Homo sapiens: one gene and its partners. The protein of the gene in region 4 purifies or fractionates together with the protein of the main gene of each other region. This does not show direct contact. Each region holds a gene or a part of one and is shown on either strand. Other genes may lie near its edges.

Region 1 (3,500 bases), on a different chromosome or scaffold from region 4:
CCTTTGAGACCTAGTTGGAAGGGCAGAGATAGGGTCTCTGAAAGGAATAGTGAATGACACCTGTATTTTTTGGGGAAACTTCATTGAACAAGAGTTCCATTATAATCATTTTCTCTTCACAAGTAACCTCTTCCATAACAGCAGGAATTTTACATGAGTTTAGATCATTCCTCTATGGGAGGGATTTGGTTCAGAAGTGCAGTTGATTGGAAGTACTCATAAGTGAGTTTCTTGGGGTTTGGTAAAGAGTTTCCTTATTTGGTAAATACATTTTGGCAATCTAAGCCTTTGAGTCTTTGGAGCTATGAGTGTGTGCGTGCTGGGAGGATTTTTCTGAGTATGGGAAGAGTTTGTCATGGCTGTTGTGTTTGTTCCCTAGACACGGGCATGTGTTGTACATACTCAGAACCTCTGGGCAACTTTACTGGAGCCCACATGTTATTTCTCTTCATGGTTTATTGGATTTAACAAGTTATAAAGTAGTCGTCTAATCAAATGGTTGGGTATCATGCAGAAAACACTAGAGCTGAGCCGGCTTGCAGATTTCACCTACCAGCGTGAAACAACCTAGCATAATGATTAGAGTGCGAACTTGAGCCAGACTGCTTGGGTTCACAGCCTTGCTCTACCATTAACTGTAGACGAGCAACTGAACCCTCTGCTTCAGTTTCCTCAACTGCAAAATGAGGATCACAATAGACTACCTTGTAGAGTGGGATGACTGAATGAGTTAGTGGATGTGAAGTGGTAGAACATAGGTAACACTGGGTAAGTGTTGTTAAATCGTTGCCACTAGTGTCATTGACTGATTAATTAGCTGGGAGGGTTGCCTGGGACATTGTTTTAAGACAGATTCTACAGACAGGTTTGGGCTCAGCAGAAATCAGAATTTGATCAGTAAGAGCTGCCATGCCACAGATGTGGGAGGGGCTAGTGGCACCTGAGTCTCATGGCTTAATCTGTGTTTGGGTTGATAAAGCCCAATGGCAAGACCCACGGGGCTGAATCCATCTTTCAATAGATATGGAGGCCACATTTGCAGAGTATGAAGAATGGTCAGAAGACCCAATACCAGAGTCAGTAATTCAGAACTATAACAAAGCACTACAGCAGCTGGAGAAATATAAACCCTATGAAGAAGCACTGGTAAGTGTTGGCTTCTTTTATAGTAAACGTCTCTCTACAAACCTTTCCCTGATGGATAGTTGCGAGTTAAACAGTATCTTTAAAATGTTTTATTCTGAAATATATAGAGTGTATAAATGTATACGTACAGTTTACATACTAATAATAAAGTGAACATCCATGTACCTACCACCCAGGTTAAGAAATAGAACATTGCCAGTACCTTAGAAGTCTCCTATGTGCCCCTCTCCGATTGCCTCCTCCTCCCTCTCCCGAGAGGTAATCACTTTCCTGACTTTTGTGATGATAATTCCCTTGCTTTTCTTTATAGTTTTACAAGCTATGAAAGTATCCTTAATTAATATATTGTTTAATTTTGCTTGCTTTTGAACTTTTATATATTGGAATCATGCTGTATATTTTATTTTCATTGAACATGCTTTTGGGTTTTACTCATGTTGCTAAGTATAACTCCGGTGCATTTGTTTTCACTGCTGTAAAGTTGTCTGTGTACTGCGATGTATTTATCCATGTTGCTGGATAGTTGGGTCATTTCCAGGTTTTTGCTAGGAGAAGGAGCAGCGCCACTCTGAACATTCTTGTGTGTATCTCCTTGTACACATGAAAAAGAGTTTCTCTAGAATACGTACTTAGGAATGACTTTGCTGGATCATAGGGTGATGTTAAAGTGTTTTCCAGGTTATCAGTTTGCACTGCTGTGAGCAGTATCTGAGAGTTCTCGTTGCTTGTGCCAATCTTGGATATTGGTCATACTTAAATTTTACTTAATTTGATGAATTTGAAATTGTAGTTTTAATTTGTATTTTCTTGGTTACTAATGAAGTTGAGCATCTTTTCACGTGGATTGGCCATTCAAATTTTTGTGCGTGTTAAAGTGTTCAGGCTGGGCACAGTGGCTTATGCCTATAATCCCAGCACTTTGGGAGGCCAAGGCGGGAGGATTGCTGGAGCCCAGGAGTTTGAGATCAGCCTGGCAGCGTAGCACAACCCTGTCTCTACCAAAAAAAAAAAAAAAAAAAAAAAAAAAAAGCCGGGCTTGGTGGCATGTGTCTGTAGTCCCAGCTTCTCCAGAGGCGAAGGTAGGAGGATTGTTTGAGCCCAGGAGGTCAAGGCTGCAGTGAGCTGTAATCATGCCACTGCATTGTCACCTAAGTGACAAAGCAAAACCCTATTTCTTAAAAAAAAGTCTGGGCCGGGCGGGGTGGCTCATGCCTGTAATCCCAGCACTTTCGGAGCCCAAGGCAGGTGAATCATGAGGTCAGGAGTTTGAGACCAGCCTGGCCAACATAGTGAAACCCCGTCTCTACTAAAAATACAAAAAATTAGCTGGGCATGGTGGCGGGCGCCTGTAATCCCAGCTGTTTGGGAGGCTGAGGCAGGGGAATCGCTTGAAGCCGGGAGGTGGAGGTTGCTGTGAGCCGAGATCGCACCACTGCACTCCATCCAGCCTGGGCAACAGTGTGAGACTCCGTCTCAAAAAAAAAAGTCTTTGACCCATTTCCCTTTTGATGTATCTTTTTTCTAATTGATTTGTGGGAGTGCTTTGTCTTAAGTCTTATTTTAGGCTGTATGTGTTGCAGATTTTCTCCCCAGTTGTTTGTCTTTTCACTTCTTTTTTTTTGAGACTGGAGTTTCGCTTTCACCCAGGCTGGAGTGAAGTGGCGTGATCTCGGCTCACTGCAACTTCCGCCCCGCCAGGTTCAAGCGATTCTCCTGCCTCAGCCTCCCAATTAGCTGGGATTATAGGCCCTTGTCACCAAGCCCCGCTAATTTTTGTATTTTTAGTAGAGACGGGGTTTCGCCATGTTGGCCAGGCTGGTCTCATACTCCTGACCTCAGGTGATTCACCTGCCTCAGCCTCCCAAAGGGCTGGGATTACAGGCGTGAGTCACTGCAACTGCCTTTTCACTTTTTTATTTTTTAACAGTGTCTTTTGATGAACAGTTCTTAGTGATCAATTAGATTAAAATTCTTTCCCTTTTGGTTGTGCTTTTGTTGTGCTTATTTAAAAAATATTCCCTACTTAGCTCTAATTTCTTCTAAAAGTTTTATAGTTTTCTGTTTCATATTTAGGCCCTCATCCACCTGGGATTGATTTTTGAGTGGTATGAGACTGCGTCTGGTTTCATTTTTCCATATGGAGAACCAGTTGTTCTAGTACTGAGTTTGATCATTCCTTCTTCCCCTCACTGATGTGCAGTGCCACATCTGTCATAGATTAGCTGTCCATTTATGTGTGGGTCTTTCTTCTGGATTTTCTGTTCTGTCCCACTGGTTTATGTTACACTGTTGTAATGATGAGAGTTATAATGTTTTGCTCTTGGATAGGGTGAGTCCCATCCACCTTTTTCCTC
Region 2 (3,500 bases), on a different chromosome or scaffold from region 4:
TTGGAAAAATTATTATTAGTTTTATTTTATAAAATGATATGTGAGAATATACAGTAACACTGAAGGCCTGCCAGTTGTAGGTTATGTTTAAAGTACTCAAAGAGAAAAGTAAAGTTCTGTGTGTTTATGCTTTCAAATTGGTGTGTTTTTAGAAATATCTGTAATTGCATTATATTGTAATTCAAAATTTCCTCATTTAAATATAACTTGAATTTTGTTTTATGTAAAATTGTAATGCCTCATGATTTTTACAAATAATTCCTTTCCTCATTGCTCCTAGGTGAAGTTGTGGTATGATAAAGTGGGACACCAGCTGATTGTAAATGTTCTGCAAGCAACAGATCTACCTGCTAGAGTAGATGGACGTCCTCGAAATCCCTATGTAAAAATGTATTTTCTTCCAGATAGAAGGTAGTGAATAATTTTAGAAAAAAAAAATCTTAAAATCTGTACTAATAGAAAAGGTAGAATTTTCTCTTTTGGGATGTTTTTAAAAAATATAATAGATAATTCTGAGGAGATAAAAGTACATTATCTCTGAAAAAAGAAGTCCCTCAAGTGTTGGAAATTGTGTTGGAAATATTTGAAAATAATCTGTCAATTAAAAAAATCTATTACCTTGTTTATAGGTATATTAGTCTTTGATAGCGACACATCATTTAGAATGTACCTTTGTATGTGTCCCTATAATTACAATACTGCTTATATTGTAACTGAAGTTAGAATATTATTAAACTCTATTATCTTTTTATAGACTTTCCATGAGTTATTAGTTAAAATAATATAAATATCAATGGCAGTTTTACATGTAACTACAGTAGATGGCAGCATGTACTTGCTTTTTCATTTACAAAACATACTTATTTTTCAGTGATAAAAGTAAAAGGAGGACCAAAACAGTAAAGAAAATACTAGAACCAAAATGGAATCAAACTTTTGTCTATTCACATGTACATCGTAGAGATTTTAGAGAACGAATGTTAGAAATAACTGTGTGGGACCAACCAAGAGTGCAAGAAGAAGAAAGTGAATTTCTTGGAGAGGTGATGTATATTTTAAAAACTCAAGTCAAATAGTTAATAAAGTTTTGTGATATTTATTATGATTACTATTACATTATGTTTTGATAAAGGTACTTGATTTAATTTGAGAATTACCCTCTCAGATCCTCATAGAATTGGAGACAGCGCTTTTAGATGATGAACCGCATTGGTATAAACTTCAGACACATGATGAGTCTTCACTACCTCTGCCTCAGCCATCACCTTTCATGCCAAGGCGACATATTCATGGAGAAAGCTCTAGCAAAAAGCTACAAAGTAGGTTAAGGTCCTTTTAGTTGCCACAAAGTAATTATGCTGTAATGATCTAATTAGTGATTAATAATTCAAGATGTTTTTTTTAAATGTTTTATTAGAGATCAAAATACTGGAAAATTGTTCATCTTTATGAAGCAACTTGGCAAAACTGTTTCTACATTTTCACAATGAAAATAATGTAGATAGCATAGCAGAGTAATTGCAGAGCTGCAAGCCAAAAACCTCTGAATTAAAATTCTTGCACAGGGCCAATTGAGCTGTTGGTTATTGACTGATGGAATAATTTCTGTCATCACTGGTGAGTTGCCACCTGTGAAGTCTTAATAACTTTATAGTTCAAAGATTTTTTCTCCCCCCACCGAGAGAGAGTCTCACTCTGTTGCCCAGGCTGGAGTGCATTGGCGTGATCTCGGCTCACTGCAACCTGCACCTCCCGGGTTTAAGCAATTCTCCTGCCTCAGCCACTGGAGTAGCTAGGATTACAGAAGTGCGCCACCATGCCTGGCTAATTTATTTTTGTATATTTAGTAGAGATGGGGTTTCACCATTTTGGCCAGCCTGATCTTGAACTCCTGACCTTGTGATCCATCCGGCTCGGCCTCCCAAAGTGCTGGGATTACAGGTGTGAGCCACCATGCCCAGCCAGTTCATAGATATTTTAATAGTTATTCATAAGAAATGTTGTTTAAAATATTAGAAGGTATGTTTATTGCTATTCATCTAGTGATTGGGAAAAGCTATTTTTTTCTGTACTTATTGAGTAATTTTTGTGTCATAACTACATTTCTAAGTTAACAGCTGAAAGAAGCCTCATTTTGGTAATCTGGAACTAAATTATTTTTCTCACATAATTAAATATTTCATGTTGATGCTTCCCTGATCAGTAATTTCCTCAAAGTTAATGTTTAATGAAGTATAATGACTAATTTGGGGAGCTAAACATAAATATTTTATAAAGGGCCCTGATGTTTTTTCATTAATATAGGCTGAATAGAGCTCCAGCCAAGAAATGTCTCTGAACCTTTCCACTCAGCCCTATTCTCTCTGAACTGCAGAGGAAAGCACTTAATTGTGTAGAAAACAATGTACTGTATATACTGTGCTGAAGGCTTTTAGTATAATATTTTAATTAAAGAATTAATCTGAAAATCTTATTCTGTGAAGTCCCCTTGTTTCTATATGTCTTTGGTGTAATGAGGAAAAAAATACTGATAAAATGTTATCCTTAGAGAACAAACATTTCTTTTAAAATTAGCTCAGTGTTTACTGTATTAGTCTTCATAAGTTTTCAGTAATAATGCAATTCACTTTTTAAAAAAAGTTTGACAGTGCTCTTTACGTTTCATAAACCAACCAGACACAGAAGTATCTCTTTGCCTTACTGTTGTGCAGGATCTCAGCGAATCAGTGATAGTGACATCTCAGATTATGAGGTTGATGATGGTATTGGCGTAGTTCCTCCAGGTGCGTGGGTGAGGAGCATGACCCTGCTTCACTGTGCTGCTTTGCTTGTTTTCTCTGTCAGCTTCCGGACCTCTTTAGGATACTAAACTGAAGATTTATAGCACAGAGAAATCAGTATTATATTATTCCATGGTGACTTACATTTCAAATTATTAAGAAAGTTTTAAATGGACTAGTCTCTACTAATTAGCATTCCCATAGTGAGGTTCTTCCGTAGAAACATGTCTAACTAGTGAAACAAATCATTATTTCACAATGCTCTGAGCGTAAGTGAAAATACGAATTTTATTTTGAAAAGATGGGGTTATTAAATAAAAATTCCATTTTTCTGTGTTTTATATTTGCATTTCTATGATTTTCCTTCCACCATTTCTGAAAATAATGTAGCCCTCCATGGAATATACTGAGAAAGGTGCATGGCGGGGTTTAAAATTGCATGTGGCATGGCTGTAACTTTTAAAGCTTTTGTGATGTGTTCCCACTGATTATACCTAGAATGTGTGTATATGTTTTAATACAATAATATGTTTAAGAAAGATTAAGTATTAATTTGAAGTGAACATCTCTTTGTCATTGTGTAAGTTAGTAAAACTTTTGTGATGTTGTAGGGTTTAAATGTTTCTCATCTGACTTCTGTCAGAAAAGTGTAAAATCAAGTGGTAAAGACTTACTTTCTTGGCACTAATTCTATACTTTTTAAAAATTTACTAATGAGAG
Region 3 (3,500 bases), on a different chromosome or scaffold from region 4:
ACCAGCAATTTATGAGTTCACTTTTCCACATACCCATTATAGTAATATATGCTAGAACTATGTTCATTTTTGTCAGTCTAATGGGAATAAAATAATATCTCATTTATACTTTAATTTGCATTTCTCTACATTTGGAGCAGTTTTTCATACTCTTTTGGCCATCTGGATCTGTTCTTTTAATTGAATATTCGATTTTTCTGTTGAATTGTTCATCTTGTCAATTTGTAAGAAAATTTATATATTATAAAAATTAGCCCTTTGCCTGTCATCTGCATTATGAGTATTTATCTGGTATTTATCTGTTGAATGTGTTTATATTACCTTTTGCTAGAGAAAATATTTTTTAGTAGTCAGAAATGTTTGTTTTCTTTTTTAGAGACAGGGTTACCCAAGCTCTGTTAACCAAGCTGGAGTGCAGTGGCGTAATCACAGCTCACTGCAGCCTTGACCTCCTGGGCTCAAGTGATCCTTCTGCCTCAGCCTCCTGAGTAGCTGGGACTACAGGTGTGCACCACCATGCCTGGCTTTTTTTTTTTTTTTTTTTCACTATTGCCCAGGCTGGTCTCAAACTCCTGGGCTCAAGCAGTCCTACCACCTCAGCTTCCCAAAGTGTTGGGATTACAGGCATGAGCCACCACACTTGACCTAGTTTTATTTTATAGCTGCTGGTTTCCAGTCTTGGTTAGAAAGTTTTTCTTAGAAATATAGGGGATTACGGCCGGGCACGGTGGCTCACACCTGTAATCCCAGCACTTTGGGAGGCCGAGGCGGGCAGATCAGGAGGTCAAGAGATTGAGACCATCCTGGCTAACATGGTGAAATTCTGTCTCTACTAAAAATAGAAAAATTAGCTGGGTGTGGTGGCGTGCACCTGTAGTCCCAGCTACTTAGGAGGCTGAGGCAGGAGACTCACTTGAACCCGGGAGGCAGAGGTTGCAGTGAGCCAAGATCGTGCCACTGCCCTCCAGCCTGGTGATAGAGCAAGATTCCGTCTCAATAAAATAAAATAAAATAAAATAAAATAAAATATAAAATAAAATAAATATAGAGGATTACATGTATAATACAAGGATTGGGGCTTTTTTCCGACAAGAATATAATAAGTTTGTGATTTTTTAAAAATAATTTTTGTATGACTGTTACCTAGACCAATGTTAGGTGAATTTGGGTAGTGATGAGAGACATAGAGAATAATTTGAGAAATATTTAGGGATAGCATCTGCAGTAGAATTTGGAAATTTTACAGAGATGAGTTCTGTCTGCCCTTGTGCCATGCAGGTTTTCAAAAATAGGAGGTTTCATGTTAAAATTTTGATTTTGTCTTTTCTTGAAAGTCAGATCTGGCCATCCGGGGCCTGCATTCCCTACTGGCCCCGTTCGAAGATAAGCAGTTACCTGCTTCAGACAGGGCATGCACTTCCCAGTTTGTTCAGTCCCCACAAAGCCCTCTTTCTGCCCAGCATTGATCTGGGAGCCTGGAGCCACTTTTCTTGGAGGTTGCACTTTGTTTTCTTAGCGTTGTGAGGGATATGCATGCAGTATTCTTACACTAGTGACTCTCAAAAATGGACTGAACAGGTGTCTGAAAGGGCTGCAAGGATCAAGATACCTGTGAAGCATAGCTGCTGTAGGCATTAGCTTGTGCCTCGATCCATGGGACTTTGATGGACTCTAAGAAGCCCTTGTGAAAGTTACTGATGATCTCCTGATTTCAGTCCCTGTATTACTGGACCCCTCAGCAGCTTTTGATCCTGATACCTGATTTTGAGACTTTGCTGATTCTCCTTTCTCTCTTGAGGGTTTCTTGTTTTCCCTTCCTCCCCGGGTTGTGCTAGTAGCTGCTCTCAACTACTCACACTCCCTGGGGAGATTCCTACACTTCCTTGATTATAACCACTACCTGGGGACTCCCTAATACTAGGCTGTAACCTTGACTTTGGCCTGAGTTCTCAGCTTCTGACTCGTGGAGCTGGTTGCCTCTGGACCACAGGAATCTCAAACGCATCATATCCAAATCCAAATGTCATGGTCAGTCCCTCCAACCCCTCCTCCTCTTGTCTTACATCCTATCTCAGAGATAGTCCTAGAAGCCAGGCCATTGATTTGGGGATCCTAGACTCATCCCTCTTCCCAGCCTTCATTCCCCCTTCTGTCAGTCACCAAATTTCTGCTAATTTTACATTCTAAGTATTAGCGAATCTTGCCGCTCTTCTTCTGTATCTCTACCCACTGCCTTGCTCAGGCCTTTGTTATCTTTTAACTGGACAATTGCAAGGGCCTTCTTCTAACTGGTCTCCCTGCCTACAGTCTTGCCTCCAGCAAATCCATCCTCCAATCCTGATGCCAGAGTGATCTGAAATGCAAATATGATCTTGCCACTCCCCTGCTTAAAACCCACCAACCGCAGTGGTTCTGTAACCACAGTGTAGCCTCTGACGTGGGCTGAAAGTAAGTTGTTACTACTCCTACTACTACTGCTACTATTAGTACTACTATTTCTACTAATATAAATACTAACAATAGTAGCTAACATTTACTGAGCATTTTCTATTATGCTTTTGAATGATTTATTACCTTTTTAAAACAAATCATAGCCAATTCAATGTTTTCCAAATTGTACCAGTCTCATTTGCTTGGGGTGAAGGAGAGGGGCAGAGTTACAGGCAGCAGGCACCTGAAAAATACTCATAACCATAAATGATCTTATCACATACCCTAGTGAGTGACCATGATGATTTAGCCTGAAGAGTTAAATAGGAATTACCATAGTCCTCATAAACAAAGATTTGCTTTTAAGGGAGGGTGTCAGTCATCTAGATCTTGAATATGTCCCTGAAGTATGTGGCACGTGGGAATGTCCTCAGGCTCCTGGGTATCAGTAGAGCGGGGAAAACGACTGCAGACATGCAGAGTCAAGTCCAGGCTTGGCCTGTTGTGCAAAACTGTCCATGATCTGGTCCCTGCCCACCTCTGCTCCTCCTGCCACTCCCTTCCTTGTGCATTTCACTCTAGCACAATGAAACTGTATGTGATACTAATCATGGCTCACCCTTACTGAGGTCTCCTATGTGCCAAGCACTGTGCTAAGTGGTTCTCTGCCGTGTCAAAATCTCATGTAAACCTCACAGCAACCCTACGAGGTAAGTCTCGCTTTCCTCCAATTTTATAGAGGAGGAAAGCGAGGCTCTGAGAGGTGAGGTCAACTGAGCTGACCTGGCTAGAGTTGTCAAGTGGGCCGCCCCCCTCTGCCCCTCCCTGCACATGTTCTTGCGTACCTCTCACATCTGCTTACACTTCGCGCTCCCTCTTGTGCCCAGGTAATGCCCACTCATCCTCAGGACTCAGTTCTTATGCTGCCTCCTGGGAAGGCCTTCATGGACACCTCCTCTGCCCCCAGACTGGGCTCAGTGTCCCTCTGTGGCACTGAGCCCCTCTGTGGCCGATGAGCTGCCCTCCAAGCACCACGCTGGAATGTATATGTTCAGTCTGTGTGCTCCTCG
Region 4 (3,500 bases):
CCAATTACTGTGTTCCAGCAACTTGAACTTCCCCCATTTTTCCCAAACACACCAGGCATGTCTCAGCCTCAGGGCCCTGGCATTGCCTGTTCTCTCTGCCTGGAATGCTCTTCCTCCTCTTCTTTCTTTGGGTCTCAGTTGAAACATCCTCCCTGTCCTCTCTCATCTAAATTTGTCCTCCCCCCACCACCCCTATTACTCTTTCTCAAAGCACTTCTCCTAACTAGGAATTAGACACATTTTAGCACTGTTATCTGAATCACATTATTAATTATAGTCCAACCCAACAACGAAACTCTCTGCAGGTGTTTAAAAAAATGGTGGGTCAGGTGCAGTGGCTCATGGCTGTAATCCCAGTGCTCTGGAAGTTCAAGGCAGGAGGATCAAGGGAGCCCAGGAGTTTGAGACCAGCCTGGACAATACAGCAAGACTCACCCCCGTCCTCCACCGCCACAACCTCTACAAAAAAAAAAAAAAAAAAAATTAGCTGGGTGTGGTGGTGCACACCTGTGGTCCCAGCTACTCGGGAGACTGAGGCTGGAGGATCACTTGAACCCAGGAGTTAAAGGCTGCAGTGAGCTATGATCACACCACTGCACTCCAGCCTGGGCTACAGAGCAAGACCCTGTCTCTAAAAAAAAAAAGAGAAAAAGATGGACATATATATTTATTTCCCAGAAACGGTGGTGACTGGTGAGTATTGTAAAATGGGGGACAGAAAAGTCTATTTACAAAGCAGGGAATATTGTGTGACCTTGTTTCATTGTGTGTTTATCAATGTCCTGGAAGCATGGTAGGGAAGTCCACCTCTCAAATGCTCAGTGGGTGACCTGTCACCAGGGACTGGGGAAGAGGCTGGGGCGTGGTCATCAGCAATTCTCCCCCTTATGTCTGCTGTATCTATTTTTCCTCCCTCCCTCCCTCCCTCCCTCCCTTCCTTCCTTCCTTCATTCCTTCCTTCTTTCCTTCCACTCTCCCTCCCTCCCTCTTTCCTCCCTCCCTCCTTCCCTTCCTTCCTTTCCTCTTTCTTTTTCTTGTTAAGTGAGGTTTTTGTTTGTGGGTTTGTTTTGAGATGGGGTCTTGCTGTGTTGCCCAGGCTGGAGTACAGTGATGCAATCATGGTTCACCACAGCCTTGACCCCCCCGGGCTCCAGCAATCCTCCCACCCTCGGCCTCCCAAAGTGCTGGGACTACAGGTGTGAGCCTTTGTGCCCAGCCTCTATTTTCTGTTTCTTCTAATTAACCTCTTGATAGATAGGGGTCATTGTCTTCTGGCTTTTGTTTGGGACAGTGAGTTGAGACAGTGAGTTGTGAGAGTGTATGCCTCCATTAGAAATAACTAATTAAAGCTGGGCGCGGTGGCGCACGCCTGTAATCCCAGCATTTTGCGAGGCTGAGGCAGGCGGATCACAAGGTCAGGAGATCAAGACCATCCTAGCTAACATGGTGAAACCCCATCTCTACTAAAAATACAAAAAATTAGCCAGGCGTGGTGGCGGGTGCCTGTAATCCCAGCTACTCGGGAGGCTGAGGCAGGAGAATGGCGTAAACCCAGGAGGCGGAGCTTGCAGTGAGCCGAGATCGCGCCACTGCACTCCAGCCTGGGCAACAGAGCGAGACTCCGTCTCAAAAAAAAAAAAAAAAAAGAAATAACTAGTTTAAAAATGAACAAAATAGATAAAGCAGTTTGAGAGTGAATGGGGGGCAGGGTCTGATTAATATAATTTTGTGCACCTGGGGTTCTCCAGAAAAAAAAATCACATCAGCCATTGTCATGTCCATAATAATGATTTTTAAAATCACAGCCAGGCCAGGCACGGTGGCTCACGCCTGTAATCCCAGCACTTTGGGAGGCCGAGGTGGGCAGATCACTTGAGGTCAGGAGTAGGAGACCACCCTGGCCAACATGGTGAAACCCCGTCTCTACTAAAAATGCAAAAATTAGCCGGGCGTGGTGGCGGGCGCCTGTAATCCCAGCTACTCAGGAGGCTGAGGCAGGAGAATCACTTGAACCTGAGAGGCGGAATTGCAGTGAGCCGAGAGCGCACCACTGTAATCCGGCCTGGGTAACAGAGCAAGATTCCATCTCAGAAAAATAAATAAATTAATTAAGAAATAAATCATGTCCATGCTGGGCACGGTGGCTCACGCCTGTAATCCCAGCACTTTGGGAGGCTTGAGGGGGGTGGATGATCTGAGGTTGGGAGTTCGAGACCAGCCTGACCAACATGCTGAAACCCCGTCTCTACTAAAAAAAATACAAAGATTAGCCGTGCATGGTGGCTGGCGCCTGTAGTCCCAGCTACACGGGAGGCTGAGGCAGGAGAATTGCTTGAACCTGGGAGGCAGAGGTTGCAGTGAGCCGAGATCGCGCTACTGCATTCCAGCCTGGGTGACAGAGTGAGACTCCGTCTCAAAAAAAAAAAAAAAAAAGAAAGAAAGAAATCATGTCAATGTATTTGACAGTTTTCTCTTCTTTTTTTCTCTCCCATGGGGCTAGGAGCTGTGAGGGTACTTGCTGATGAATCAGATTTGGGTTGAGGGATTAGATTTGGGGGTAAGATCCTGGGTGGATATTGGAGGTCCAACACCGTCTGAGACACAGAGGAGGTTTTCACAGGCCTTTTCCATCCCTCCATGACATGGGTTTCCCAAGGGCAAGGATGGACCAAACTCCACCCACACCCCACCCTGGGATGGGGCCTGGCCCGCGGCAGGCAGCTGGAGATATTTTGGGCAGCTGCCATAGCGCCCAGTCCTGACTGACCGCGCAACACCGTCACACAGGCAAAAACACCCAGGGACAGACAGAAGGCCATGCAGTGCCGCCCCGCTGCACAGCCTCAGAGATGAAACCAGCCAGAGGGTGACACAGGCCACTGTCACATTCTCAGCAACGTTCAGGAGGGAGTCTCAGAGAATTACAGTGAAGGTCGTAGAACCACATACCCATCACAGCGCAGCACAAACACACGATATCACACTCAATCCCTCAGAGCAGGGCACAGGTAGACACACCCACACAACATCGCGGTGACACACAAACATCCTGCCAGAGCCAGACGCATCCCTGAGGCCCCATCAGGTCACAGCCGGAGTCACAGTGTCACATGCACCTGTCAAATAATAAGCACGTCATCCTGGGCCGGGTGCGGTGGCTCACACTTGTAATCCCAGCACTTTGGGAGGCTGAGGTGGGTGGATCACGAGGTCAGGAGTTCAAGACCATCCTGACCAACATGGAGAAACCCTGTCTTTACTAAAAATACAAAATTAGCCAGGTGTGGTGGCGGGTGCCTGTAATCCCAGCTACTCGGGAGGCTGAGGCAGGAGAATCGCTTGAGCCTGGGAGGCGGAGGTTGCAGTGGGCCGAGATCGCGCCATTGCAATCCAGCCTGGGCAAGAGAGGGAGACTCTGTCTCAAAAAAAACCCCAAAAAATCAAAAAACCAAAAAAAAAAAACCTTATCCTACAGACACATAGGGATATACCCGAAGTCT

The links.
Region 1: the proteins of ELAVL3 (region 4) and SART3 purify together in Homo sapiens (affinity purification with mass spectrometry, with the first as the bait; one large-scale study listed by BioGRID). This does not show direct contact.
Region 2: the proteins of ELAVL3 (region 4) and RIMS1 purify together in Homo sapiens (co-immunoprecipitation; one large-scale study listed by IntAct). This does not show direct contact.
Region 3: the proteins of ELAVL3 (region 4) and MOV10 purify together in Homo sapiens (affinity purification with mass spectrometry, with the first as the bait; one large-scale study listed by BioGRID). This does not show direct contact.

What each region holds. Positions count from the first base shown.
Region 1 is NC_000012.12:108,540,674-108,544,173, reverse strand, and holds part of SART3 (spliceosome associated factor 3, U4/U6 recycling protein), read left to right. Parts: intron 1-1,021; coding exon 1,022-1,146; intron 1,147-1,329; exon of another isoform or gene 1,330-1,362; coding exon of another isoform or gene 1,363-1,404; intron 1,405-3,500. UniProt on the Homo sapiens protein: U6 snRNP-binding protein that functions as a recycling factor of the splicing machinery. Promotes the initial reassembly of U4 and U6 snRNPs following their ejection from the spliceosome during its maturation.
Region 2 is NC_000006.12:72,250,050-72,253,549, forward strand, and holds part of RIMS1 (regulating synaptic membrane exocytosis protein 1), read left to right. Parts: intron 1-280; coding exon 281-411; intron 412-871; coding exon 872-1,043; intron 1,044-1,165; coding exon 1,166-1,319; intron 1,320-2,711; coding exon 2,712-2,783; intron 2,784-3,500. UniProt on the Homo sapiens protein: Rab effector involved in exocytosis. May act as scaffold protein that regulates neurotransmitter release at the active zone.
Region 3 is NC_000001.11:112,684,659-112,688,158, forward strand, and holds part of MOV10 (helicase MOV-10), read left to right. Parts: intron 1-2,307; exon of another isoform or gene 2,308-2,448; intron 2,449-3,500.
Region 4 is NC_000019.10:11,460,547-11,464,046, forward strand, and holds part of ELAVL3 (ELAV-like protein 3), read right to left. Parts: intron 1-3,500. UniProt on the Homo sapiens protein: RNA-binding protein that binds to AU-rich element (ARE) sequences of target mRNAs, including VEGF mRNA. May also bind poly-A tracts via RRM 3. May be involved in neuronal differentiation and maintenance.